7 linked regions of the Homo sapiens genome follow. The protein of the gene in region 3 purifies or fractionates together with the protein of the main gene of each other region. This does not show direct contact. Each region holds a gene or a part of one and is shown on either strand. Other genes may lie near its edges. The genes, in order: GNL2, NLE1, NSA2, MAGEA9B, NOP2, MRTO4 and CCDC86.

Region 1 (3,500 bases), on a different chromosome or scaffold from region 3:
CAGTATATTTGAAACAGTTCTGTAATTCAAGCTCTGATTCTTCCACATAATGTAAATAAATGTACTGCAGTTTACCAAAATGTTTTCATCTCTCCTTCTAGAAACGGTGGGTTGCTGTCCTCTCCCAGGATTATCCAACACTTGCTTTCCATGCAAGCCTTACTAACCCGTTTGGCAAGGGAGCATTCATTCAGCTTCTGCGGCAGTTTGGAAAGGTATTGAGCCCTGATCTGTTTCTCCTGGAGTTGTGTAGCTGTGAGTTGGTATAAGAATCTGTCTTGCCATGGCATAGCAGAAAGTTGCCAACTTCTTAGCCGGACGTGGTTGCGCAGGTCTGTAGTCCTAGCTACTCAGGACGCTGAGGCAGGAGGATTGCTGGAGCCCAGGAGATCAAGGCTACAGTGAGCTATGATGGCACCACTGCACTCCAGCCTGGGTAACAGAGCAAAACCCTGCCTCTAAAAAAAAAAGATGTGGCCGGGCGCGGTGGCTCACACCTGTAATCCCAGCACTTTGGGAGGCCGAGGCAGGCAGATCACAAGGTCAGGAGTTTGAGACCAGCCTGGCCAATATGGTGAAACCCCGTCTCTACTAAAAATACAAAAATTGGCCAGGCATGGTGGCACACGCCTGTAGTCCCAGCTACTGGGGAGACTGAGGCAGGAGAATCGCTTGAACCTGGGAGGCGGAGTTTGCCGTGAGCCGAGATTGCGCCACTGCACCCCAGCCTGGGCGACAGAGCGAGACTTCTCAAAAAAAGAAGAAGAAGATGTAAAAACTTCCAGAGATGTAAAAACTCACAGAGCATCAGGATTATAAGAGATTCTGAAGTGTTTTCTTGCTCAGCCTTTGCCCCCATCCGTGACCAGTGTTGCTTCCATTTCTGCCACAGCCCTGGCACCTGACGTTCCACGCTCTGCTGGGCTTTCCAGGCCTGCTGTGCATCCTCTGCCCATGGAGCCCATGCAGCTTCTATGTCCTCTGGTTGGAGAGGGCCCTGCCAAAATTCAAGCTTCAGATCCCTGGTCAGACGTCAGCTCCTGAGGGAAGCCGTGGAACCAGACTACCCTATCAAATTCTTAAAGCTTCATGTTCTGTACCTGTCATTTTGAATTTGTCTATTTAGTTAATTCTACCTGGCTTCTAACAAAAGACACATGTCTGCTGTCCCACCCTTCCCCACTTTACAGAAGCAAATGCTTCCAATAGCCATTAGTTCTGTTATTTTCCTCCATATTTTTAGTACATGCTTATGATTTTCTTGATCTGTGCCCACCCCTCACCCCCAGTTTAAGATGCTTATTAATTTCTTACTATGGAAAATGAGGATTTGCTATCTTATAGCCATCCTCTCTCTGTATGTACTTCCCCCTGTATTGTTAGATGCCAATGTTGGGTTACAGTATTATTCATTCAGTGTTGGTTGGTTGTTGTTGTTGTTTTAACTTGGAAAGGAGAGCTTTATTTCTCATAAAGGGTTGCAGCCTGCAGGGTGGCCACTCTAACAGGCTGGGAAGAGTAGTCTTGGCCATTCAGTCTTTACATTGTCATGACTGTAAAATATTAGTCACAGCTGATCCACATGGTGTGCTATGAGTATAATTCCTTTCTGATCGAAGCTTTTATTTTCGCTAGTGTTACTTTGCTGTGTTCTATTTGTATCTGTCACTATCATACTACCAAATTCTCTGATACAGTGGGAACTGTCAGAGCTTCCAGGCAGCACAGGTAGTTCCCTTCGGTGGCCAGCACTCCGTCCTCCGCAGGGCTGGCCGCTCTCCAGGCTGCTGCAGCGTCGTCTTTCTGGGATTTCCTTTCACTGTCATCCAGAGAATTCCCATGGCTGTTTTCCTGTATGGGACCTCTTATTTATAGGACCTCTTTTCTTCTTTTCTGGTTTACTCCTTTCTTTCCATGGGACATATTTTCCAAAAGTTTCCTGAGAAGGAATACTTGGAAAGAACATTTTTTTGAGATACGCCTTGCGTTCTGAAAATATCTTTATTAAGATCTTTATTCTACCCTTTATGCTGTTTTTCCTCAGAATACTGAGGTTACCACTGCACTGTCTTCTGAATTCTGAGGAATCTGAGGCCATTCTGACCCCTCATACTTTGTGTGGCTGTGATTTCTTGTTTTGAGACAGGGTCTTGCTTTGTCACCCAGGCTGGAGTGTGGTGGCACAACCACAGCTCACTGTAACCTCAAACTCCTAGGCCCAAGCGATCCTCCTGCCTCGTTTTGGCCTCCTGAAGTGCTGGGATTACAGGTGTGTGCCACCACGCCCAGCCAATCTTTTCTTATTCTAAAATTTAAAATTTCTCTTGTTCTAAAATTTCACAGTGGTGTGTCTTGAAGTGGGCCTTTTATTGCTCAGTGAGCTTGGCGTTTGATGAGACTTTAGTCTGATATTGTCTTACATTATTTCTTTGAAATTTTCTTTCCTCCCTCAGTTGTCTGTATTCTTGTTCAGAAATTTGCTTTTACCTCCTGGTTTAATTCTTGATTTATATTTGCTTTCTTTTTTTTTTTTTTTTTTTTTGAGGCAGAGTCTCACTCTTGTCACCAGGCTGGAGTGCAGTGGTGTGATCTCGGCTCACTGCAGCCTCCGCCTCCCGGGTTTAAGCGATTCTCCTGCCTCAGCCTCCCGAGTAGCTGGGACTGCAGGCACACGCCACAACGCGCAGCTAATTTTTGTATTTTTAGTAGAGACGGGTTTTCACCATGTTAGCCAGGATGGTCTTGATCTCTTGACCTCGTGATCCGCCCGCCTCAGCCTCCCAAAGTGTTGGGATTACAGGCATGAGCCACTGCACCTGGCCTATATATTTTTTCTTTTGGTACATATATGACATTTTCCTCTATTTTCTGGGTACTTTTTTTTTTTTGTGAGACAGAGTTTTGCTCTTGTTGCCCAGGCTAGAGTGCAATGGCGCGATCTCGGCTCACTGCAACCTCCTCCTCCCAGGTTCAAGCAATTCTCCTGCCTCAGCCTCCCGAGTAGCTGGGATTACAGGCATGTGCCACCACACTTGGCTAATTTTGTATCTTTAGTAGAGACGGGGCTTCTCCGTGTTGGTCAGGCTGGTCTCAAACTTCCGACCTCAGGTGATCCGCCCCCCTCGGCCTCCCAGAGTGCTGGGATTACAGACGTGAGCCACTGCTCCCGGCCACTTTCCTTGTTTTGATCATCCAGCTGCCCAGTCACAAAATTTATTTTGCCAATTGCTTTTAATTTTTAATTTCTGAGAGCTCTTGTTGAATTCTGATTTGCTCTGCCTCCTTTTACATCTTATTTCACAGTCACAGTATCATTAATGACGTTTTGAAATTTTCCTGTCTGCATTGATTCTGTTACCTCCAAATTTTTGTGGGTTTTTTTGTGTTTTCTGCTACAGTCACGCTTAAAAATTTTTTCTTTTACTTTAAAAATTTTTTTGAGACAGGGTCTTGTTCTGTCTTAACCCAGGCTGAAGTGCAGTGGTGCGATCATGGCTCAC
Region 2 (4,074 bases), on a different chromosome or scaffold from region 3:
CTCCAGATGGACAATGTCAGCATCACTCAGCAAATTGTTACAAATTTAAATTCTCATCTCCCTCCACCACATTTGGGCCTCCTGAGTCAGAAACTGTTGGGGCGGAGCCCAGTAATCTATCTTTTAATAAGTCCTCCAGGGTATTCTAATGCACACCAAGTTTGACAAACACTGGCCTAGATGGAGGAGAAACCAGACAGGAGGCAGCAGGCCCAGAAATCTGCAGTTACAAAATCTCCCTGAGATGCTTAGCCAGGCTTGGCAACCATTGTAGTACAAAGTGTATGGGCTCTGGAGCTATGGGTTTGAACACTGGCTGTCACTTAATTGCCGTATGATGATGGACCAGTCACTTGCCCTCTCTGGACCTAGTCGATAAGATGATCTCTAAGGTCCCTCTCAGCTAACAGAGTCTAGACAGAGTCTAGAACCAACCTTTTTGGCACCAGGGACTGGTTTCATGGAAGATAATTTTTCCATGGATCCGGTTGGGGGGATGGTTTCAGGATGAGTCAAGCATATTACATTTATTGTGTACTTTATTTCTATTATTATTACATTGTAATATATAATGAAATAATTATACAACTCACCATAATGTAGAAACTGTGGGAGCCCTGAGCTTGTTTTCCTGCAACGAGAGGGTCCCATTTGGGGGTGATGGGAGACAATGACAGATCATCAGGCATTAGATTCTCATAAGGAGCATTCAACTTAGATCCCTCCCATACAATTCACAATAGGGTTCACGTGCCTATGGGAATCTAATGCCTCTGCTGATCTGACAGGAGGCAGAGCTCAGGTGGTACCCTGAGCCGTGGGGAGCAGCTGTAAATACAGATGAAGCTTCGCTTGCTCGCCCACCAATCTCCTCCTGCTGTGCTATCCAGTTCCTAACAGGCCATGGACTGCTATCAGTTGGTGGCCCAAGGGTTGAGGACCCCTGGCGTATAAGAAATATGGAATGAGGGTGTACCCTAAAGTGGGTGGGGCTGCCCAGGAGAGTAGTACATGCTTCGGGGCAGGGGTTCCACACTCAGTGCTGCAGTACCTTGCACCTTCCATCTGACCTGCCTGGGCCCCAGCAGGAGCAGGGGATGGGCATGGGACGTCCTGACCCCAGTTGGGAGGGTGAAGGGACAGGAAGGACAGGACATATCTGAGGAAGCCTCGGGGCTCTCTCTTCCCCTAGATTTCCTGGACCTACGCCTTGGGCAAGCAGCCGGTCAGTTTCTACCAGCTCCTGTTACAGGAGGTGGCCAAGACACAGGAGAATGAGTTGCCCGAGGCAAAGAATCGTCCATGGATCTTCAACAAGATTTTGGGCACTACTGTCAAGCTGATGGAGCTAAAGCCTAACACGTGTTACTGCCTCAGTGTCCGTGCAGCCAACACAGCTGGGGTGGGGAAGTGGTGCAAGCCCTACAAAGTGAGCCCTGGGAAAAGAGGGGCCTTGGGGGTGGAGAGAAGTCCAAAGCCAGGGAACCAGGGCTTTGGAGGTTGGGAACACCCCTATGCCCACATGACTCATCTGGCTAGCTTTCCTTCTGCCTGGGTCAAGAAGCATCAATTCCAGAATGCATGCTTCTGGGAGGTTTAAGGATTAAGCCACTCTGGGGCCCACTAGGAATGCAAACGAATGTATTTTTCAACATCACTATAATGTTCCCCTTCCAAAGCCATTGGTTTTTAGACTCTGCAATTCAGTGCCCATGATTGTGAGTAGGCTGGGAAGTCAAGGGCATTGAAAGAAATAGGGAAGACAAGAGGCTAAAGGGGGACGAAGAAGGGAACAGCCTGGGTATGGGGTAGGGGTATGGGGGTATAGAGGCCTGAGTACAGACAGCCCTTTGGTTGGAAATATCCCATAATGAGGAGGTACAGGCTTGAGTCATGCATCTTTGCACCTGTTTCCTGCGTCAATGGCTAGGTTGGATAAGGCTGTTTAAGGTCTGAGTCAGCAGACAGAAAAAAAAGGGGTGATAGAGACAGAGAGAGAGCCAGGTTCAGATCTGGGAAGGAACTCTGAAGGGTTTTCTTGTTTCACTTCAGTTTGCAACCCTGGCCACTGACTTCAGCAGCTTTCCTGAGAACTACCCCATCCAGATCACCGTGCGGCGCAAGGAACCCCGGCAAAAGATCGTGTCCATCGGGCCGGAGGAGATGCGGAGGCTGGAGGATCTGGAATACCTATTTCCCTGTTAAGGGGGAGGGCCCCAGGACACCCCTCACCTACTTTCAGCTTCAACCCCAGGCCCTCAGAAACCAGAGCCATGAGACCTACCATACCACCAGCACCCTGCGGGCCCGGGGTCTGGCAGAGTGGTATGGGCACCCCACCCCTGGGCTGGGGCCAAGGCTACATAGGGGCCCCATTCACCTGGAGGCATCTCAGGCCAGGCCATGCCAGGCTCAGCCACTGCCCACAGCTGCTAGACTCCCTCCTCCTCCAAATCTGGGCTGGGTCTAGGTCCCTCATTAAAGAACTGCAGGTCATCCAGCACCCTAAAGTCTGCTTTATGCTGCAGACAGCCTCAGATGGGCTGGCTGGCACCCACCTCCTAGCTTCCACCAGGACAGAGTCTACATGGGTGGGGAGATAGAAAACAGGCAGCTAGGCAATAGGATGCTGCCATCACCCCTTCCCCAGTGGGGCGGGGTAGGGGAACAGGGAGACTGGTGCTCTAAGACTAAAAGGCTCTTACACCAGAAAAATACAGAAATAGCTGTCATGGACAGACGTGGTGGCCCATGAACTGTCAAACTAGCTTGAGCTCTGGACGGAGGGATGTGGTACAAAGTGCACAATAAGCTTTGGGGCAGGGCCTGGTTTAATCCCAGCTTTCTCTTACTAGATGTGAGGGCATGGGCTAATCATTTCTTATGTTGTTTCCTCATCAAAAGTTTTGGAGCTTGAGAACCTTCCAGGCCTGGTGCAGTCTGAGAGCACAGCAGACAAACAGCTGGCACCAAGGAGCTCAGTGGCTGATAGTTTTGTTCGCTTCTTATGTAGCCTCACTGCAGATATGTGCAAGGTGGAGGCCAAGCACCACAGCTAGGTGACGCGCAAAACCCAAAAGCACAGACAAGGGTGGAGGAGGGTAAGAAGGAGCAAGATGCTAGTTCTGAGCAGTTTATACAAGGATGGTTTGGAAATCCAATCTGAGTAGTTCAGACCATGACCCTGCTTAGCATGGGATGCAGGAGAAAGCAGAGGCAGGGTACATTCAGGGCAAGATCTCGGCCTGGGGTCTGAGTCCTGATGGGAATTCCTTTCACTGCTTGAAAGTTCTCGTGGCAAAGAACTTCCTCTGTATCAACAATACCCACTTCTGCTCAGAGCTCATACTGCTGCCTCCCCATCTGAGGGAATCCTCTGGAAGAGCCATCACCTTCCCCGCTCTATCCCATGGGCCCAGGGCAGTGCTTGGTGCCTGGCAGGGCCTCAAGCAGTGTGCTATGCGAAGGCAGAGGCATCCCCTGGAGCAGGGCTGACCAGCAGAACTCTCTTGATGATGAAAACCTTTCTGTGTGCTGTCCAATACTGGAGGCCTTACCCAGTGCGATGGAGGAACTGCACTTCTATTTCATGCCAGCAGTCACATGTGGCCGGTGCCTACTGCAGTGGACAACAATACAGCCCTAGATTCTCCTTGGCCACTATCACAACTGGCCTCTCTCTTACCAACACGGGGGAAGAGAGGGAAGGCAAGTGCCTGGTCAGTGTGGTTTTGGCGTAGTCCAGTGCAAGGGCGGGGGCTGGACAATCTCATTTAGCACAGTCCTTGATTGAGTCATGGGGATTCTAGGACAAGGAATTAGAACCCAACACACAAAACTTAAGTTACTTATTTGGTCATAGAACCTGGGATCTGACCCTGTACAGAGCTGACACTAGGGGCCCACTCATAGAGCCTGGCTGCCCACCACCCCTGTCTGTACCAGCAAGGTACAGAGTAGCAGACACGGGCCAAGTTCAGTGACAACTTCCTGTGACCTTCGATTTCTGGCTCTGGGGTGTGCCACAGGCGGGGATCTGTGGGAAAACCCCATTCCGGTCTATCGAGGACAGCA
Region 3 (3,500 bases):
TGTACCCAGGAGGCGGAGGCTGCACAGTGAGCCAAGATTGTACCACTGCACTCCAGCCTGAGCAACAGAGCGAGACTCCATCTAAAAAAAAAAAAAAAAAAAACCACCACATTACAGGTGGTATTTTCTCACCCATAACACAGCATTAAGATTTTTAGCTTAAGCCAACCATTTATTTAACATACCCATGATATATAAACTTGTTCTGTTTAATTTGCAGCTTATGAGACAATACAGACCTCTAGAAGACGGTTGAGCCAAAAATGTGTTGATGGTCAAGCAAAAAAAATAGATCTATTACTTTGTACAACTAAAACATATTTGACTTATTCTCATTGTCCTTTAATAACAATATAAACTTTTAACTGTGGCATATTTTTAGGGAAAATGGGAAGTCCCTCTGCCTAAAGTACGTGCCCAGGGAGAAACAGAAGTATTAAAAGTTATTCGAACAGGAAAGAGAAAGAAGAAGGCATGGAAGAGAATGGTTACTAAAGTGTGCTTTGTTGGAGATGGCTTTACAAGAAAACCACCTAAATATGAAAGATTCATCAGGCCAATGGTAAGTCCTTGGAAGAGTGTAATGACCGAAATGTTAGTTGACTTTATTAAATCGGATAAAGAACATTATCATTTCCTGAAATTCTTTAAATTGATGTGGAACAGGTTGAAAGATATTTTTATGCAATTTTTGTTATTTTATTGACAGAAGTTATTTAGTACTTTTTCCACTAGTCAAAAATCTTTAGCCCAGTGCGGTGGCTCACACCTGTAATCCCAGCACTTTGGGAGGTTGAGGTGGGTGGATCACCTGAAGTTAGGAGTTCAAGACCAGCCTGGCCAATGTAGTGAAACCCTATCTGTACTAAAAAATACAAAAAATAAGCTGGGCGTGGTGGCGGGCGCCTGTAATCCCAGCTACTAGGGAGGCTGAGGCAGGAGAATCGCTTGAACCTGGGAGGCGGAGGTTGCAGTGAGCTGAGATCACGCCATTGCACTCCAGCCTGGGCAAGAAGAGCAAAAATCCGTCTCAAAAAAAAAAAAAATCTTTTCAGCTTCGTGAGAGATTTGAAAAAGTAGTATCATAAGACATTGTCAGTGAATTCTGACTTTTAAACATGACATATTAGAATCTTCATTTTCCACAGTCATATTTTCCTCATTAAACTAGTGATCTACAATATGCCTGATATTGTCTAGGTCTCAAAACACTTCTTGTCTTTGACAGCAGTTCGAAAACTTGAGTAGGACTGTTTTATAAGAGTCAATTCCAGTTTGATAAGGAAAGTATCTAAATGCTTTTGAAAATCATTGAAAAGCCGGGCGCGGTGGCTCACGCCTGTAATCCCAGCACTTTGGGAGGCCGATGCAGGCAGATCACGAGGTCAGGTGATCAAGACCATCCTGGCTAACACTGTGAAACCCCATCTCTACTAAAAAAAAAAAATACAAGAAATTAGCCGGGCATGGTGGCGGGCGCCTGTAGTCCCAGCTGCCTGGGAGGCTGAGGCAGGAGAATGGCGTGAATCTGGGAGGCAGAGCTTGCAGTGAGTGGAGATCATGCCACTGCACTCCAGCCTGGGGGACAGAGCAAGATTCTGTCTCAAAAAAAAAAAAAAAAGAAAAAAAGAAAAAGAAAATCTTTGAAAAAAGGAAGATAATTTAATATAGCTTAATTTCTGTTGAAGGCAGCAATAGTAATGTGACCCCAAACTTCCCCACCCCTGGGGAGAAACATAGTTGAAGATATATTTTTGCAAAATCCCTTCAAAGAGACTGAACTATTCTCCCAGTTAGATACACAGCCTCAAAAAAACAAAGTATCAGAGAGAGGAAAGTTGCAACATGCCATAATCCTAGTGTTCAACCTGAGTAATTTTTTTTTTTTTTTTTTGGGACGGAGTCTCCCTCTGTATCCCAGGCGGGAGTGCAGTGGCACGATCTCGGCTCACTGCAAGCTCCGCCTCCCGGGTTCTCGCCATTCTCCTGCCTCAGCCTCCCGAGTAGCTGGGACTATAGGTGCCCGCTACCACGCCCGGCTAATTTTTTTGTATTTTTTTGTAGAGACGGGGTTTCACCGTGTTAGCCAGGATGGTCTCGATCTCCGTGATCCGCCCGCCTTAGCCTCCCAAAGTGTTGGAATTACAGGCATGAGCCACCGTGCCCGGCCAACGTGAGTAATTTTTAATAGATTAAAATATTGGCAAATAGCCTGTTTCTGTAAATAAAATTTTAATGGAACACAGTCATGCCTGTTCATTTACATATTGCATAACCCCTACCCCTAGAATTGAGCAGTTGCAACAGAGGCCATATGGCCTGACAAAGCCTAAAGTGTTTACCTATTGGGTTCTTTACACAAAATGTTTGCCCACCCCGGATTATATCATGGACTCGACTTGTTTTGGTTTCATATTCATAGTCTGAATATATTTTGGTAGCCTTAACAGTTCTACAGGGAGAGAATATACAAGTCAGGCTATTCTAGGTTTTCTGTAGTTTCACAGATTTGTCATTATAATCAGATGGCATCCTGAATGGTGTCAGTTTCTTACAAGCTTGATTAATGAGTCTGTTACTAAGAAACTGATTTAGTGATTTTTTCCCCCCATCCCCATGCACACAAAAATGAAGACTGCAAAATGTTGTGACGTTTAAAGTACTACACCCTAAAAGACCTTATTAGGTGACTGGGTGACTCCATAACCAGTTTCTGTAACAAAGACTCCTCTGGGTCTCCTCCAGTCTCATATTGCCATCAACCTAAAGAAAGCTGACAGTCCACTCCTTTTTTCATCATGGAAGGTAGCCGAGTTATATAAAGACTTGGAATCAGGATATTAAGGTTTGAGTCTGTTTACCACTCACCATTTAATCTGGAAACAAGTCATTTAACCTGCTGATCCTTGTTACATCATTTGAAAACAGAGGAGAGGGGATGTGTTTGTTGTGAGGTTATTGTGTTTAAGTGAGCCAGTTGTGAGCTAGCATAGTGGCCTGGTATATATAAAGTCCTTAGTAAGTCTAAGTGTAGATGACTAGACAGTAAAAATCTGGGTATGTTGCTAGGTAGCTATTACAGGGTGAAAAAAAAAAAAACTTTTCAGAGGCTAGCTGTGGTGGCCTGTAATCCCAGCACTTTGGGAGGCTGAGGTGGGTGGATACGTTGAGAGCCCAGGAGTCCAAGACCAGCAGGCAACATGGCGAAACCCCATCTCTACCAAAAAAAAAAAAAAAAAAAATAAGCTAGGCATGGTGGTGCGTGCCTGTAGTCCCAGCTACTCAGGAGCCTGAGGTGGGAGGATGTCTTGAGCCCAAGAAGTCCAAGCTGCAGTGAGCCAAGATCACGCCACTGCACTCTGGCGTGGGCAACTGGGCAAGACCCTGTCTCAAAAGAAAAAGAAATTCTTAAGTATTTGTGTGGGTGTTTTCCCCACATATTTATACTGTAACCATCAGCTTTTTACTCTGTAAAACATATTTTGTTAGCTTCTTTAAGA
Region 4 (4,274 bases), on a different chromosome or scaffold from region 3:
TCAAACCCTTGAGATGAGCAGACATCTCCCTTTACACCAACGCCTCATCCCCCTGAGGGTTCCTCAACTTCCTGCCATGGTACAAATGAGCTTGCCACTTAGCACCATCCTTGATCAGGCCCCCCCCCGCCCCCAGATCTAAGAACAGAGTTCACCTAGACTCTGTGGGGTGGCTTCTTTCTGCGTTGGGGGTACCTCCATTCCTCATGAAGGGGGCACACCTTGGGTCCTGCTGATCCTGGGAGTCCTCCTTCTACTGACCAGGTGTGGAGCCCTCTGTTGGATCTCTCAGTGCCCCCTGGGATCAAGGTACTCACCTCCCTGAGACCTCTCACCCCCAGTCACGTGGGAGAAATGAGAGCATGCCTCATGCCATTCCTGCCTGGGGCCACCTGGGGCTGAGAACAGGTGACACCAGTGTCTGTGAGGTCCTTTCTTTTTTGAGAGCGTGGAGGTACCTTCTTACCTTCAGTCCTCACCAAACTTCCTCCCCGTCACTCCTGGAAGACCCTGGATTCCACCCTGTGCTGACCAGGTGTGGCTCCCTCTGCTGAGCTGAGGAAACCCCTCGGACCAAGGCCCCCACCTCCCGGAGACCCGGGAGGCAGAAGTGAGGGGCCACCTCATGGTCACTCATGCATGAGATACCCAAGGCTGACCAAAGGAGCAGGTTCCAGGGGGCCTCGTCGGTCTGGGTGTCCTCTAGGTATTCATATTTGCTTCTGACAGAATCTGGCCCCTTCCATTTTGCTGAACCAGAGGTGAGTCTTGCAGACCAAGGCCAATTTCTCCCTTAGACCCTCTTTGAGAAAGTGTGTGTTGGGGGTGGAGGGGGCACTTCCCTTCCTCACCGTCCTGCCTGGGGCCTTCCAAGACTGACGGCAGGGGCAGGTTTCCTAGGTCTGGGATGAGAGGTCTGGTGAATCCTTCCTCAGGCCTCTGGGACTCCTCCTTCTGCTCACCTGAGGCCCCACTCCTCATACCACAGCCCTGTTCCCATTGACACCCGATCCCACCAGCCACAATGCACCACATGCGGCCACCGTGCCCGGGATCGCCCAGGCCAAGATCCCCACTGAGCTGGACTCCGGGGTCCCCTCTGTCCTCCGTCTTGTTCCTTCCCTGGTCTCCTAGAGGGCTGGGCCCCACCCCTCTGTGGACCTGAGTCTCTATCTGTCGGATTCCCGAGGCTGAATGAGGAGGGGCCTCGGTCTCAGATAGGGGCGGGGTGGGCCCCTTGTCCTGGGGTACTGGGTCCCCTCAGGCCTCCCTTGTCTCCCAGCAGGACCTGGGCCCTCCCTCTGTTCTCCCGCGGCCACGCTAACGATACCAAGCCCCTTCCCTCGGTCAGCCCAGGATGCAGATATCACGATCCGCTTGCCTGACCGCCATGCCCGGAACTTCCCAGGGTCCACTGCAGGGGCAGTGACTCCCTCTATGGGGCCTCAGCCCTCCCTCAGGGTCCTGGCCCTGATGCCTGGCAGAGCCTGGCCCCTGCCCTCTCTTAACCAGTCCTGCCCTGGTCACACCAAGCTCTGACCCAGAGTCCCCTGGGGCTTAAGTGGTGGGGTGGCGAAGGGTGGCCCACAGCCTGAGAAGTCCGCCCCCGGGGTGGTTCAGGGCTGGCAGCAGGGGTGCTGCTGGATTATTTGGGGCCCTCTATCTGGGGTGGGGGCGTCCTCAGTCCTCCCTCAGCGTCTCATCTTGCCTCCTCACAGAGCCTGGGCCCGCTTCCCTCTGCCGATCTTCAGCCACCACTCAGAACCAAGCCCTTGCTACTCTCTGACCCCCAGTGCGCAAGTCAGAGGCCTTACATCCGGGCACCCGGAGCTTCCCTGGGTTGACAGCAGGAGCCGAACCGGATTCTGCCACGGGAGACTTGGGGGTGGGGTGGAGTGGGGGGGGGGTGAGGATGGAGGTGGGGAACCTGAGGCTGTAGGTCATGGTGGTGGTGGCTGGGTTAGGGGTGTGGAGGCGTTCAGCCCTCCCTCAGGGTTCTGACCTTGATGCCAGTCAGAGCCTGGGCCCAGCCTGATACGCCCGACCCCGCGGGGTGGTCCAGGGCTGGCACAGGGGCGGCGCTGTATTATTTGGGGTCCTCTATCTGGGGCGGGGGGTCTTGAGTCCTCCCTCAGGGTCTCACCTTGCCTCCTCACAGAGCCTGGGCCCGCTTCCCTCCACCGATATCGACCCGCCCCTCACAGCGAGGCCCCCGCTACTCTCTGACCCCCAGTGTGGGAGTCACTGGCCGTACATCCGGGCACCTGGGGCTTCCCTGGGTTGACAACAGGGGCGGAACCAGATTCTGCCGCGGGAGAGTTGGGGGGGTGGGGTGGAGTTTGGGGTGGGGTGGGGTGGGGTGGGGTGGGGTGTAGAGTGGAGCTGAGGATGGGGCTGGGGAACCTGGGGCTGTAGGTCATGGTTGGGTTGGGGGGGCCCAGCCTCCCTCAGGGTCCTGGCCTTGATGCCCGGCAGAGCCTGGGCCCTGCCCTCTCCTAACCAGCCCTGCCCTGGTCACACCAAGCTCTCACTCCAGAGTGCCCAGCAGCTTGAGCGGCGGAGGGAGGGGGTCGGCCCAGCCTCACAAGTCAGCCCCAGATCGGCCCCCGGGTGGTCCAGGGCTGGGAGCAGAGACGGCACTTGGTTCTTTCGGGTCCTCTATCTGGGGTGGGGACATCCTCAGTCTTCCCTCAGCACCTCACCTTGACTCCTCACAGAGCCTCGGCCAGCTTACCTCCACCGGTATCAAGCCGCCCCTCAGAAGGAGGCCTCTCCCTTCTCTCTGACCCCCAGTGCGCACGTCAGTGACGTCACATCCGGCCCCCAAGCCTGGAGCTTCCCTGGGTTGCCAGTAGGGGCTGAACCGGGTTCTGGCGGAGTAGGGGTGGGGATGGGGATAGGGGCCCTCAGTCATCCCTCAGGGGGTCCTGACCTTGATGCCTGGGTCTCGATCCCCATTCTCTGCCCATTGGGTCTGCTCCTCTCGGACCAAGTCTCTGACTCCCAGTCACATGAGGTGGCAGTGAGGGGAGGGGTGTGGTCGGGGTGACAACATTGCCAGGGTCTTCCAGGGCTGACAGGAAGGGCTGAGCTGGATTCTGTGGCCCCTCTATGTGGGGAGGTTGGACCTTCAGTCCCCTCTCAGGAGGGTTCTCCTCCTGGCTCCTGGCTCTTTGATGAAGTGATGTGTGGGAGATGATCTGTTTATGTCACCTTTGAGCATTTGCCCAGCTGCACGCGTTGCAGAGAATGGCTGCGGGTCCCAGGCTAGATGCTCCCTGGGGGGCTGCAGCACCTGTGATTGTAGGACCTGTGAGAGAAGATGCACACCATCCCATGGGGGCTCCTCCCCAGCCAGAGCTAGACTTTGCAAACCTTTTGTCCTAAAAGATTTATTTTTACACGGAAGAGGCTGAGCAGCAGCAAGAGATTTGGAGAAGCCATGTGTTTTGAAGGTATCGAACACAGCAGAGTCCAGATTAGCGATTTTCATATTTTAATTCTCATTCACATGGTAATAAATTTTACACTGTATGTGTACATTATATATGGTATTGTACATTTTGTTTATATCTACGTTTATATACATACCTGTTTTAGACATTATATACATCTATGCTTATATGTATACATACACGCATATATATCTTTATATCTTATATTTACTTACATGTATATATCTTTAGCTACATATTCGTTTGTATTTCTAGACTTTATACTATATATATGCACACATATTTTATTAATATCTACTCATAGTATGTGGCCTTCACACATACTTACTATTCTATTCCTAGTTCATTCTTTATATTCCATTAAAATAATAATTTTTTGGAAGGCTGGTCTTCTCCTACTAAGTTTGTTTCAGGTGGTTGTTAGCAGAACTCTGGAGCCATAGTGTCTCAATCAACTCAAATTTCCTGGTGTCCTGATATTACTCCAGGGCTACTGGCATCAGATTTTGTGGTGCTGCCTCAGATTGCGCGATGATGTGGGGTGGAATGTTAAACACTTTCTCCTATCCATCCTGTAATCTGCCATCTATGCAGGGTACAGACCTCCTCGATTTCCCTGCTGCTCCCTGGACCCAAAACACAAGTACTAGTTTAGCACAGTCTTCAGTCATCCCCAGGGCTTTCTCTGTTTTGATGGGTTTTTTTTTTTAATCTTTTCCCTCCTATATTTTTTCCGGGGTTGATTTGGGGAGCAGAGCACAGCAACCTGAGCTTGGTTGTCACTTTGGCAATGACAGTTAAGGCACTCACTCTGTATTT
Region 5 (4,068 bases), on a different chromosome or scaffold from region 3:
CACCACACCAGCTAATTTTCATATTTTTAGTAGGGATGGGGTTTCGCCATATTGTCCAGGCTGGTCTCGAACTCCGGAGCTCAGGTGATCCGCCCACCTTGGCCTCCCAAAGTGCTAGGATTATAGGCATGAGCCACTGTGCCAGGCCAATTTTTTAATTTTTTGTAGATACGGGATCTCCCTATGTTGCCCAAGCTGGTCTCCAATTCCTGGGCTCAAGCAATCCTCCTGCCTCAGCCTCCCAAAGTGCTGGGATTACAGATGTGAGGCACCATACCCAGCCAAAAGGAACAAATTTTTCAAAGTTCTGAGATAACTGCTTTATAAAAAGTGCATTTCTGTGCCCATCAGTGGAGCACACCATTGTCCACCTTCCCATACCTACACCAAGACAGCCTTCTAGATTTTTTTAAATGCTCTATCCTACAGCTCTTTCAAACTTGTAGTGCACTGGGAGGATATAAGGCAGTAGGGAAACAGTGATGGAGCACAAAAACCCCTTTCCTCTAGTCAGGCTTATCCTTGCCACTAAGAAACAGTCTCAAGAATCTGGGAAAGAAACTAAATAGCAAGGATCCTTCTATGAATGCCCAAAAAGATGAATCTCACCGCTTCACCTTCCTCCTCATCCTCAGAGTTGGAGTCAGCTCCATAGTCATCTACCGTATCAGCATCGTCCTCGGAGCCCCAGAGGTCCCCGTGGTTCACCATACCATCTTCTTCAGAGTCTTCCTCCTCCTCTTCCTCATCACTGCCAGGTGCTGGGCGCTTCTTGCCTCGAGGAGCATTAAATAGGGACTGGGGTCCCTTCTTACCAGCTGTCTGGACAGCTCCTGCAGAGATCCCTAAGGGTTTGAAGAGTCCTGGACTAATGGCAGCCACACATTCCCTGGCCCCACACCCTGGGAGCCTGTACTTTCTACCCCTCAGAATGTCCTTTGGCTGTTCCTTTCACTCCGGAAATGTTTAGCGAGTTCTTCCCTACCCAGGACCCAAAGGGACTCCTCATGTAGCATCCAGCTCTTAGTTTCACGGACCTTTTGGTAGCTTTCCAGGCAATGGTTTGGCCTCAGGAGACTTATTTGTCTTAGGGGCTTCAACAGAGCCCAATCTCCTCTTGGCTGCCCTGAAAAGACACAAGAGATTCAAGGAGTGAAGAAATGGGAAGATACTTCCAGGCTCTGCCATTTCCACCATAGGGAAATGTGAGAGTCTAGAATTAACTCTGTGGTCAAAGATGAGCAGTACCAATTTAACCTACTTAAGTTTTGACACCCACACTTACCTCTTTCGAGCACGACTAGACAGCCTCTTGGAATTTTCGTCACTTACTGTTTAAAAAAGAAAAACGAGGCAGAACAAGTTACAGGGGACATTAAAAATAAATGGGAACGGAAATAAACATGGTAAGAGAATTAGTACACTAATTAAAAGGAGTCCATTTAAATCTCAGCCCTGTTATTATTTAATAACTGTATACAAGTTTCTTTTTTTTTTTTGAAATGGAGTTTCACTCTTGTCTTCCAGGCTGGAGTGCAATGGCGTGATCTCAACTCACTGCAACCTCCTTCTCCCAGATTCAAGCGATTCTATTGCCTCAGCCTCCCATCACCACACCCAGCTAATTGTTGTATTTTTAGTAAAGACAGGGTTTCACCATGTTGGCCAGGCTGGTCTCGAACACTGGACCTCAGGTGATCCACCTGCCTCGGCCTCCCAAAGTGTTTCCTTAATAGTGCCTCTCTCACAGGACTCTAAGATGATTAAGCGATATAACATGACCAACAAGTTTAATACAGTGCCCAGGACTTCCTACTATCTCAATAAACTGCATCCTTTATCCAATGCCCAACACAAACTCCCGGTCCAGTGTTACCTCCCACCAGTCTTCCACACAGTATACTACTACTCGGCATGAAGCAGCCAGATCCGTGCTTTTCCATTTCCACCCCTTCCAAAAGGCAAATCAGTGACTGACCCCTCCCCTTCACTACTTCCTCTTGCTACAATGTTACCCATTTTTCAAAACCCAGCTTAACAAAAACTTTTACAGTTCTGCATGGGCTCCCCCTTCCTCTGAACTCACAATTGTTTTAAATCACACTTTTCCCTTGCATGAATAATAGTTGTGTCCGTGTCTTCACATCTCTACGACCTAAACAGTTCCCTACAATCTAAACGGCTGTTTCATTCATACCTCCTAGTAACTCATACAGAGAAGATTCCACTTAAATATAAAATGAACAGAAACTAAAAAAGAGAAGAGGTTATAATACAGAATACTGCAAAAGCTGAGGGATCAGGAGGCCACAACTAATCCTTACCTGCAGGCAAGAATCTGACGAGTTCTGTCTCGGCACCCTTCTGCTTCCGGGCCTTTCGGCCTGGCCCCCGCTTCTCCTTCGTAGGGTCCAACTTGCGCCCCATGGTACTGTGGCAGGCAGAAATGGGAGAAGGTGGCGTCGCGCGTGTCGGAGGGAACGGCAGAACGCACGCTTGGCGTATTATAGTGGGAAAGGGCACAGCCTCAACTCAGCACCCGCAACTCACTCAGCACTCCCGACTCAGCACCCGCGACTCAAGCACCCCCGCTATCCCCCTGGAGGCCCGACCGAACGCCCTCCCACCTGAAACCCAGGTAGCGCACCCTTCTCCCCACGTCCCAGACCAGGTCAGTGCTGCCACTCTTCGTCCCCCAATTTCCTCTAGACCCACCAGAATGCGGGTTAATGTCCGAGAGTGCCCTTCGGGCGGCCCTCCACGTGCAATCCGGACCTAGCTTTCGGCCGGCACTCGCCACAGAATCGTTCCACGCAGGCGCACGGGTAGCGCTAGCCTCGCGGCCCCGCCTCTTCCTGTTGCGCCTAGTCGGCCGCCGCACCCGGAACTTACGCTCGCCCTGGGAACGCCAGCGGAGCCGGCGGCGGCGAGTAGGGGGCAATTCGAAGGAGACGCGCAGCTTACACCCGCGGCGGGTGGAGGGAGCAATGTGACGAAACCATTGAGCTTGACCGACCTTCCCTCATGGAGTTGGCTTTTAGCCTCACGGCCGGTTTCTGTTGGGTGAAAGCCGCACCTTCTCCTCGAACCAGGGCCCGACATTGGAGCCCTCTCCCTCGCATCCACTGCCCTAGTCCAGCGTCAAGATCACGGAATTCCAGGCTGGGCGCAGTGGCTCACGCCTGTAATCCCAGCACTTTGGGAGGCTGAGGTGGGTGGATCACTTGAGGTCAGGAGTTCGAGACCAGCCTGGCCAATATGGTGAAACCCTGCTTCTACTAAAAATACAAAATTAGCCGGGCGTGGTGGCGGGCGCCTATAATCCCAGCTACTCGAGAGGCTGAGGCAGAATTGCTTGAGCCCGGGAGGCGGAGGTTGCAGTAAGCCGAGATCGTGCCACTTAAGCCTCACCAAGAGCGAAACTCCACCTCAAAAAAAAAAAACAAAAAAACCAGCCGGGCTCGGTGGCTCACGCCTGTAATCCCAGCACTTTGGGAGGTCGAGGCGGGCGGATCACGAGGTCAAGAAATCCGAGACCATCTTGGCCAACCTTGTCTCTATTAAAAATACAAAAATTAGTTGGGCATGGTGGCTGGCGCACGCGTGTAGTCCCAGCTACTCGGGAGGCTGAGGCAGGAGAATCGCTTGAACCCGGGAGGGGGAGGTTGCAGTGAGCTGAGATCGCGCCACTGTACTCCAGCCTGGCAACAAAGCGAGACTCCATCTCAAAACAAACAAACAAAAAAAACCGTGGAATTCCATGCCACTTACCTCCTCCTCTTTGCCCCTTTTTTAAAAATCTTTTTATAGAGACGGGTTGTAGGGGGTGGCGTCTCACTATATTGCCAGGGCTGGTCTAGAACTCCTGGGCTTAAGCGATCCTCCTGCCCCCACCTTTGTGCTGAGATTACAGGCTGTGAGCCACCGTGCCCCGCCCTCCCAGCACCTTCCTTGATGCTGACCCCTGCTCAGCCCCTCAATTAAGGTGCTGCACTGCACCTCATTCGCAGGGGGCCTCTTCGCCGGAACTCGCTTTCAGGTGGGTCTACAATTAGTTGGGAAACAACG
Region 6 (3,972 bases), on a different chromosome or scaffold from region 3:
ATGCCTACTCATTAGCATTCCTGGGCCTGAAGATCCCTGGATATAACTCCTGCTATTTAGACAAACTAGGCCTTTCTTAGCTCCTAAGGCTGACCCAAAAAACTTGATTGCAGTGTGGGGGTGGAGGCTGTTCCTGCTGCTAGAAGTGCTCTCAGTGGCAGACCTCACCTGCTGGCTGAGGCAGGCCCCTGTTTTTTGTTTTTTTTTTGACATGGGGTCTCACTCTGTCACCCAGGCTGGACTGCAATGGCACGATCTGGGCTCACTGCAACTTTGAGCTCCTAGGCTCAGGCAATCCTCCCACACAGGACTACAGGCACACACCACCATGGCCTGCTAATTTTGGCTGGGACCACAGAAATGCACCACCATGCCCAGGTGAGTTTTGTATTTTTTGCAGAGATGGCTTTTGCCATGTTGCCCAGGTTGGTCTCGAACTCCTGGGCTCAAGAGATCTGCCTACCTCAGTCTCCCAAAGTGTTGGAATCATAGGTGTGAGCCACCATGCCTGGCCCCTTGCTGCTCTTGACCATGATGCAGAGGCCACTCTAGCTGGCCTATGCTGTGCAACCATGAGGCTGGGGACTGAATCTCCTGGTATGTATCTGCACCCCAGTATTGCAATTTGGACCCAAAGACGCAGCAACACCTCTCTGGGGAGGAACATGTACCTCTACTGTAAAAATGGCTGGGGCCCAATTTGCCCTCTACCCACAGAGTTTGGCATTTGCCAGACCTGACCCAGGCCCCTCCACAGAATCAAATCGTTCCAGAAACACTTAACAGAACTCCAACTGCAAAGCCCCGGGCGCCTTCACAAAGGGACCCAGGCCTCTCTTCTTTAACCTGCCCGCACTCAGCCCCTCTTAACTAGGTACCACACAGACAAAGACAATGACATCAGTCAATGGTAAGTGGAGCAGAGGAGGGCAAACGAAATATAGCGGGCCACTTCCCATCATTTCCACTGTTATACCTTTGGCTCAAGCCAGCATCACCCTGTCTTGGATTAATGCTGGTCTCACTGCTTCCATTCCTGCCCTCTGCCCTGTCTTCCCCAACTATTCTCACCAAGGCAACCAGAGTGACCCTTCATAAGTAAAGGTAAATCACATGGGTCCTCTGCTACTCACTTCACCTGGGCAGGAAAGCCAATGCCTTGCCAAGGCCGAGGAAGTCCTGCCCTCTCTGCCTAACTCCCTCCCCAAACTCTATTTGGCTCCTTCTGCTCCAGCCTCACTGGCCTCTTGTCCCAAACACGTCATATCTGCTCCCATTTCAGAGCCTTTTCACTTCAGGTTCCCTCTACTTGGAACAGCATTCTCCCAGATAATTCCACAGCTGCTCAATTCCACAGGTTGCTCGCTTCCTTTCTTTATTTTCTGCTCATTTGTCACTTCATCAGTGAGACCTTTCCCGACCACACTATACAAAATATCAACATCTCTTCACCCCATTTTCAATCTGATTTTTAGCATTTTGCGGAATATGTTTCTCCTAAAACGTTAGGCTCGATAAGAAATAGGCTTTCCTTGTGACTGCTGTATCCTCTAACGCCTAGAAAGTGCCAGACCCCTAAATATTTTTGAATATTCCAGGGAGCCGGGTTAAGAGAGAGGCCACCACAGCAAAGGTGGTCAAAAACGGTCTCTTAAGAGGTGCGCAAGTCGGGTGTAGTGGCTCACGCCTGTAATCCCAGCACTCAGGGAGGGTGGTTGGAGCCCAGGTGTTCGAGACCAGCTTGGCAACACACTGAGTCTTCTCTATAAAAAATAAACAAAAAAAACCTAGCTGGGTGTGGTGGCGTGCGCCTGTAGTCTCAGCTACTCGGGAGGTTGAGGTGGGAGGATCGCTTAAGCCAAGGAGGTCAAGGCTGCAGTGACTTATTTTATTTATTTATTTTTGAGACGGAGTCTCGCTCTGTCGTGCCCAGGCTGCAGTACAGTGGAGCGATCTCGGCTCATTGCAACCTCCGCCTCCCGGATTCAAGCGATTCTCCCGCCTCAGTCTCCCAAGTAGCTGGGATTACAGGCACCTGCCACCATGCCCATCTAATTTTTAGTATTTTTAGTAGAAAAGGGGTTTCACCATATTGGCCAGGCTGGTCGGGAACTCCCGACCTCAGATGATTCGCCCGCCTCGGCCTCCCAGAGTGCTGGGATTACAGGCGTGAGCCACCGCATCCGGCCTGCAGTGTTACGATCGCGCCACTGCACTCCAGCCTGGGCAACAGAGCGAGACCCTGTCTCAGAGGGATCCTATTAACTGACAACTAAGAAGGCGCAAACCATACGAAGATGTAAGCATGCCAGGCAGAAACAACCGCAGACACACAACGCCAGACACGGGAACAAACCTGTGCTGAAAGAAGGGAAAGGCAGCCAGGGTGGCGGGAGCGCAGGAAGATGAGAAAGGGCCGAAGTTGGGAAAAGTGGGCCGAAACGGCAGCAGGCATAGCCGGGGGCGGTGTTCAGGAGCTGCCTCCCGACCCAGTTGGCCTTGCAAGAGCACCTGAAACTAGGCAAAACGAGTCTCCGCTCCCCAGACCCGACCGGGCGTCAGCCACCTCTGGCGGTTTTACAGCCCCGAAGCCCCCATTCCAGCTCGCAGCGAGGCAGCGGAACACCTCGAGGATGTCCTGGCGTTCCAATCTGCGCCCCCGCCGCCCCGAAGCCCTCACCGCAGGCTGGGTAGCCAGCCCACGGAGCTCCCCCCAGGGTCCCGACTCCCCCTTCGCCCACCTTTCTTGTCGCGCTTGGATTTGGGCATCGCGCTGAATCCACGTGCGGCGGAAGACGGTGCACCCCGTTAGGACCCCGGCGGCGCGGGGGACTCTGGGACGGCCCTCGGGGGCTGCCCCTCGCGTGTGCCTGACCCAATGTGCACTGCAGCCTGCCTCTCCCTGCCAAGCCGCCGCCTGCGCTTTCTCCCGCGCCTGTAGGGCAACTTCCCGTGTGCCGAGGCAGTCCCTGAATCCCGAGCGTCCCGTCCGACCGAGGGCCTCGCGCGCTATCCCAGCTCTGTGGTCCCGCGGAGGCGGAGCCCGCGGCGCGGTGCATGCCGGGACGGCGGTGGGTGGTGCATGCGCTCGCATCATGGCGGCTGAGTGGGCTTCTCGTTTCTGGCTTTGGGCTACGCTGCTGATTCCTGCGGCCGCGGTCTACGAAGACCAAGTGGGCAAGTTTGATTGGTGCGTACGTGTGGAACATATTCGAGAGATAAGTGGCTGTTTCCCCAGTACCTGTCTCCTACCTGCTAAAGGTTGTCACTTAACAGGATTGGCCGCATAATTTGCAGGACCCAGTACAAAATGAAAACGTGGGGCCCCTTGTTAAAAAATTATTAAGGATTTAAAGTCGTTGGAAGCAGAGCCTTAAACCAAGTGTTAGGGGTCATTCTAAGCTGATCCTTGCGTGTAAGCCGGCCCTGCCATCCAGGAATGCTTGGGGTGCCGGTCAGAGATCACTGATCCCGTCCTCCCTCGTCAGGTTCGATTTTTTTGACTGTGAGGTTTCTGGTCTACCAGGTGTCAGAGGTCGCCAAGCTGTCAGTGAACTTTAATTCCTACTCGAATTGGTGTCTTGTAGGCAAGTGAACAGGAGCTTTCGTCTTAAAAGTCCTAAACTGAGTCCTTTTCCCCTCTCATCAACCTAGTCTGGCCCTGGGCTCACAGCAGGATTGCCCAAAACACTAAGCAGCTAGAATATGCCATTCACTCATTCATTCATTCACCCACCCACGTCTTCCTTAAGGCCCTGGAGTAGCTTGCTTTTGTTTGAATTTTACTAGTTAAGACTTGTGTGATCTTGGGGAAAGTGACTTAACCACTCTGTGCCTTGGTTTCTTTGTCTGTAGAATGGGTTTACTAACAGTCCGTTATCTCTTACAGTACTTGTGAGAATGAATGAGACAATCCCATTAAATTACTTAGCACAATGCCTGGCTCATTGAATGCAGTCATTAAGCGTTATC
Region 7 (3,234 bases), on a different chromosome or scaffold from region 3:
GGGCTTCTCCCCAAGGCCCGCTTCTGGTCCTCCCCCTCCGTCCCTGTCCCTGAGGCTCTTTCAGCAGCCCAGGCTAAACTGTATGGTCCCCTGGGCCTCCCTGCCCTGTAGTCCCAGATTGCACTTCTGCTTCTGGCCAGGTGCCCTTCCTCCCTCCGGCCTTCAGATTCAAGAACGTTTTTTAACCAAGTCGGCCTCCCCCAGGCACCCGTGGAGGCCCTCGCCTCAGGTCTGTACCAGTAGACACTAGCTTAGTCCTCTGAGCCCCAGCCTCAGCCTGGCTGGCCCCTCACCTGGCGGCGCCTCTCCTTCTCCTCCTCCAGGTGACGGGCAAAGTCCTTGGCCAGCTTCCTCTCCTGTCGTTCCTTCATCTTCCGCTGCCACGATGTGCGCAGGGGCTTGTCCTGAAGCATCTGGGAGAATCTGAAAGGGGGAGAGTGGGTGCATACAGGGTCTGTGGGGCAAGCGCCACCCATGCCCTGTCTCCTCTCGGCCGGAGGCTCTGGACCTTCTTCCCCAGAGCCCAGGCAGAACCACCTCCTTGCTGGCCTGACAGGCGGCCTTCCAGGGCTGCAGAAACTTGGGGCGGGAGGGAACCCTGATCGTGCTGGCTGCCATTTCTCAAGCCTTGGCTACATGCCTCTGAGGTGGGTACTCCTATCCTCTCCACTTACAGAGGAGCAGGCCAAGGCGCGGAGAGGTTAAATAGCTGCCTAAAGATACCTTGTGGCAGTCAGGACTTGAATCCTGTCAGCGACTGCAGAGTCCAGGCTACGCGGCCCCTGCTGTAAAGTTCTGTTGCTTCCGCCAAGTGCATTTGGCCCGGGTGTGAATGCCTCTGGAGGCGGGGCGCTCACCCCCTAGGGAGGTGGCCCATTCCATTTCAGAACAGTGTGAGTGGTTAAAGTTCTGGGTAATGATTCAGGATCTTCCCCGCCAAGACCGGATGCAGTGGTCATGCTTGTAATCCCAGCACTTTGGGAGGCCAAGGTGGGCAGACCACGTGAGTCCAGGAGTTGGAGACCAGCCGGGCAAACATGGCAAAACCTACTAAGCCTACTAAAACCTACTAAAGTTTCTACTAAAAATACAAAAATTAGCTGGGTGTGATGGTGTATGCCTATAGTCCCAGCTACTTGGGAGGCTGAGGTACAACAATTGCTTGAACCTGGGAGGTGGAGGTTGCAGTGAGCCGAGATCGCGCCACTGCACTCCAGCCTGGGTGACAGAGCAAGACTCTGTCTCAAAAAAAAAAAAGAAAAAAGAAAAAAGAAAAAGAATCTCTTCCCCCAGTTGGAGATGAAGTGGGCATCAGGGCTCTCAGGGAAATCTGAAAAGAGCAACGATGATTTTAGAGTTACAGGAGAACTGAGCTCATCTCTGTAAAAATGCATACTACAAGGATTTATGAATGGGATGATATGTCTAGGATGTACTTTAAAATATTTCAGGGAAAAAAAAATGCCAAAGATCAGCCGGGCGCAGTGGCTCACGCCTGTAATCCCAGCACTTTGGGAGGCTGAGGTGGGCCGATCACCTAAGGTCGGGAGTTCGAGACCAGCTTGACCAACATGGAGAAACCCTGTCTCTACTAAAAATACAAAATTAGCTGGGTGTGGTGGCACACACCTGTAATCCCAGCTACTTGGGAGGCTGAGGCAGGAGAATCGCTTGAACCCAGGAGGCGGAGGTTGCGGTGAGCCGAGATTGCTCCATTGCACTCTGGCCTGGGCAACAAGAATGAAACTCCGTCTCAAAACAAAAAAAAAGAAAAAAAGAAAAAAAAGCCAAGTATCAAAGATGAAGCTACACTAGTAAAATGCTGAGCTGTGTTGATGCTGATAATGGGGACTTGAGAGCTTTGCTCTTTCTTTGTATGCTTGAAAATTTCCATTCAAAAAAAGTAAAAACAAAATGCAAAGAAGTCTCTCGGTGGCCTCCACATGCTGAAATTAGGTCTTTCTCTTTTAAAGATTCAAGGCCCATTTTGGTGTCCCTTGGCCCTGCCGACTTCTGGCCCCAGCTCCCTGATTTCCTTCTCCCCTTCCCAAGGCCTTGCCACTGAAGGCCTGGCCTCCTAAGCACTAAGAATGGGGTGCCACATGGACTTCCCCCATAACTGTAAAGCTGGGCTTCCCAAGCTGGGGTACGAGAACCCTGAAGGGACAAGGTGTTGGGAGCCTAGAGACACACAGAACCACAAGACACAGTGCTGCATCTGTGTAGAGCAGGGCTGTCAAACAGAACGTTCTGTGATGGTGGAAACATTCCACATTGACACTGTCCAATAAGGTAGCCACTAGTCATGGGTGGCTGCTGAGCGCTAGAAATGTGGTTGGTGTTGATAGAGAAACTGAATCTTAAATTTTATTTAATTTTAATTAATTTAAATGTACATAGCCACATGTGGCTGGCGGCTAAGGTACTGAGGCAGGGCAGTTCCAGACCATTGGTTCTACCTGGGTATTGAGGAAACTCAGGCCTGGGTTCCAAGTCCAACCTGGGTGACCTGGAGCAAGGTAGCCTCTCTAAGTCTCAGCATCCTGTCCAGTGGAGATGAGAATCATTCCTAACCCAAAGGGTGGTGGGAGATTTAATCGACACACACACGTAATAGGTGCTCCATAAATGCTACTCCTCAGAGAAGGCAGACAGCATGCCCAAGGGCACTATGGAGAAAGTGGCGTTTGGCATGAGCACGAAGACAGGGCTGCAGCCAGGTCTCCCTCACCACATACACTTTCCCAGCTGCGGCTGTCTTCCTCCCTGCAGCAGGAGCTGCTTCCCACCCATCTCCAGGCTCACTTACTACCCACCGAAGCTGCTCCCTCAAAGATCCCAAACATCCATTCAGTGGCCCTGCTGGGCCCCTCGCCACAGACTTGCCTGCAGCTTCGGAAGCTGTTTTAGTTCTCTTGAGACAGCCTCCTTGTGGGTTTTCCTGCCTTCACCCCTGCCCGCCTATGTCTGTGTTCAGTAGCCAGGCTGATCTCACAAGTCAGGTCATTTCATTCCTTTGCTTGACACCCTTCCATGGCTCCCAAGCTCACTCAGGAAAGCCGGGAGTCCCTGTAAGGGTCACCAGGTCCTGCTGTCTCTCTGACCTCATCTCCTACTGTTCCCCTTCTCCCCCTCATTCCAGCAGCGAGACCTCTGGAAAGCCTCTCAAACGGGAGCTTGCTCCCGCCTCAATACCTCTGAACATCCCTTTCCTGTTGCCTGGATACTGTTTCC

Evidence for each region.
Region 1: the proteins of NSA2 (region 3) and GNL2 purify together in Homo sapiens (affinity purification with mass spectrometry; 4 studies listed by BioGRID and IntAct, with this or other methods). This does not show direct contact.
Region 2: the proteins of NSA2 (region 3) and NLE1 purify together in Homo sapiens (affinity purification with mass spectrometry; 4 studies listed by BioGRID and IntAct, with this or other methods). This does not show direct contact.
Region 4: the proteins of NSA2 (region 3) and MAGEA9B purify together in Homo sapiens (affinity purification with mass spectrometry, with the first as the bait; 3 studies listed by BioGRID). This does not show direct contact.
Region 5: the proteins of NSA2 (region 3) and NOP2 purify together in Homo sapiens (affinity purification with mass spectrometry; 2 studies listed by BioGRID and IntAct, with this or other methods). This does not show direct contact.
Region 6: the proteins of NSA2 (region 3) and MRTO4 purify together in Homo sapiens (affinity purification with mass spectrometry; 3 studies listed by BioGRID and IntAct, with this or other methods). This does not show direct contact.
Region 7: the proteins of NSA2 (region 3) and CCDC86 purify together in Homo sapiens (affinity purification with mass spectrometry; 3 studies listed by BioGRID and IntAct, with this or other methods). This does not show direct contact.

The regions. Positions count from the first base shown.
Region 1 is NC_000001.11:37,578,938-37,582,437, reverse strand, and holds part of GNL2 (nucleolar GTP-binding protein 2), read left to right. Parts: intron 1-101; coding exon 102-215; intron 216-892; coding exon of another isoform or gene 893-1,096; intron 1,097-3,500. UniProt on the Homo sapiens protein: GTPase that associates with pre-60S ribosomal subunits in the nucleolus and is required for their nuclear export and maturation.
Region 2 is NC_000017.11:35,128,230-35,132,303, forward strand, and holds the end of NLE1 (notchless protein homolog 1), read right to left. Parts: 3' UTR 2,206-4,074; coding exon of another isoform or gene 2,053-2,205; 3' UTR 1,430-2,052; coding exon of another isoform or gene 1,193-1,429; 3' UTR 501-1,192; downstream 1-500. Other genes in the region: FNDC8 (fibronectin type III domain-containing protein 8), read left to right, coding at 1,193-1,429, 2,053-2,205. UniProt on the Homo sapiens protein: Plays a role in regulating Notch activity. Plays a role in regulating the expression of CDKN1A and several members of the Wnt pathway, probably via its effects on Notch activity. Required during embryogenesis for inner mass cell survival.
Region 3 is NC_000005.10:74,770,249-74,773,748, forward strand, and holds part of NSA2 (ribosome biogenesis protein NSA2 homolog), read left to right. Parts: intron 1-382; coding exon 383-562; intron 563-2,064; coding exon of another isoform or gene 2,065-2,124; exon of another isoform or gene 2,125-2,245; intron 2,246-3,500. UniProt on the Homo sapiens protein: Involved in the biogenesis of the 60S ribosomal subunit. May play a part in the quality control of pre-60S particles.
Region 4 is NC_000023.11:149,584,660-149,588,933, forward strand, and holds the start of MAGEA9B (melanoma-associated antigen 9), read right to left. Parts: upstream 2,801-4,274; 5' UTR 2,735-2,800; exon of another isoform or gene 2,703-2,734; intron 2,247-2,702; exon of another isoform or gene 2,144-2,246; intron 1-2,143. UniProt on the Homo sapiens protein: Not known, though may play a role in embryonal development and tumor transformation or aspects of tumor progression.
Region 5 is NC_000012.12:6,565,492-6,569,559, forward strand, and holds the start of NOP2 (28S rRNA (cytosine(4447)-C(5))-methyltransferase), read right to left. Parts: upstream 2,801-4,068; 5' UTR 2,716-2,800; exon of another isoform or gene 2,648-2,715; intron 2,432-2,647; 5' UTR 2,428-2,431; coding exon 2,325-2,427; intron 1,332-2,324; coding exon 1,286-1,331; intron 1,127-1,285; coding exon 1,038-1,126; intron 846-1,037; coding exon 610-845; intron 1-609. UniProt on the Homo sapiens protein: S-adenosyl-L-methionine-dependent methyltransferase that specifically methylates the C(5) position of cytosine 4447 in 28S rRNA. Required for efficient rRNA processing and 60S ribosomal subunit biogenesis.
Region 6 is NC_000001.11:19,250,633-19,254,604, reverse strand, and holds the start of MRTO4 (mRNA turnover protein 4 homolog), read right to left. Parts: upstream 2,801-3,972; 5' UTR 2,770-2,800; coding exon 2,742-2,769; exon of another isoform or gene 2,357-2,741; intron 1-2,356. Other genes in the region: EMC1 (ER membrane protein complex subunit 1 isoform 5 precursor), read left to right, coding at 3,096-3,190. UniProt on the Homo sapiens protein: Component of the ribosome assembly machinery. Nuclear paralog of the ribosomal protein P0, it binds pre-60S subunits at an early stage of assembly in the nucleolus, and is replaced by P0 in cytoplasmic pre-60S subunits and mature 80S ribosomes.
Region 7 is NC_000011.10:60,845,113-60,848,346, reverse strand, and holds part of CCDC86 (coiled-coil domain-containing protein 86), read right to left. Parts: intron 424-3,234; coding exon 294-423; intron 1-293.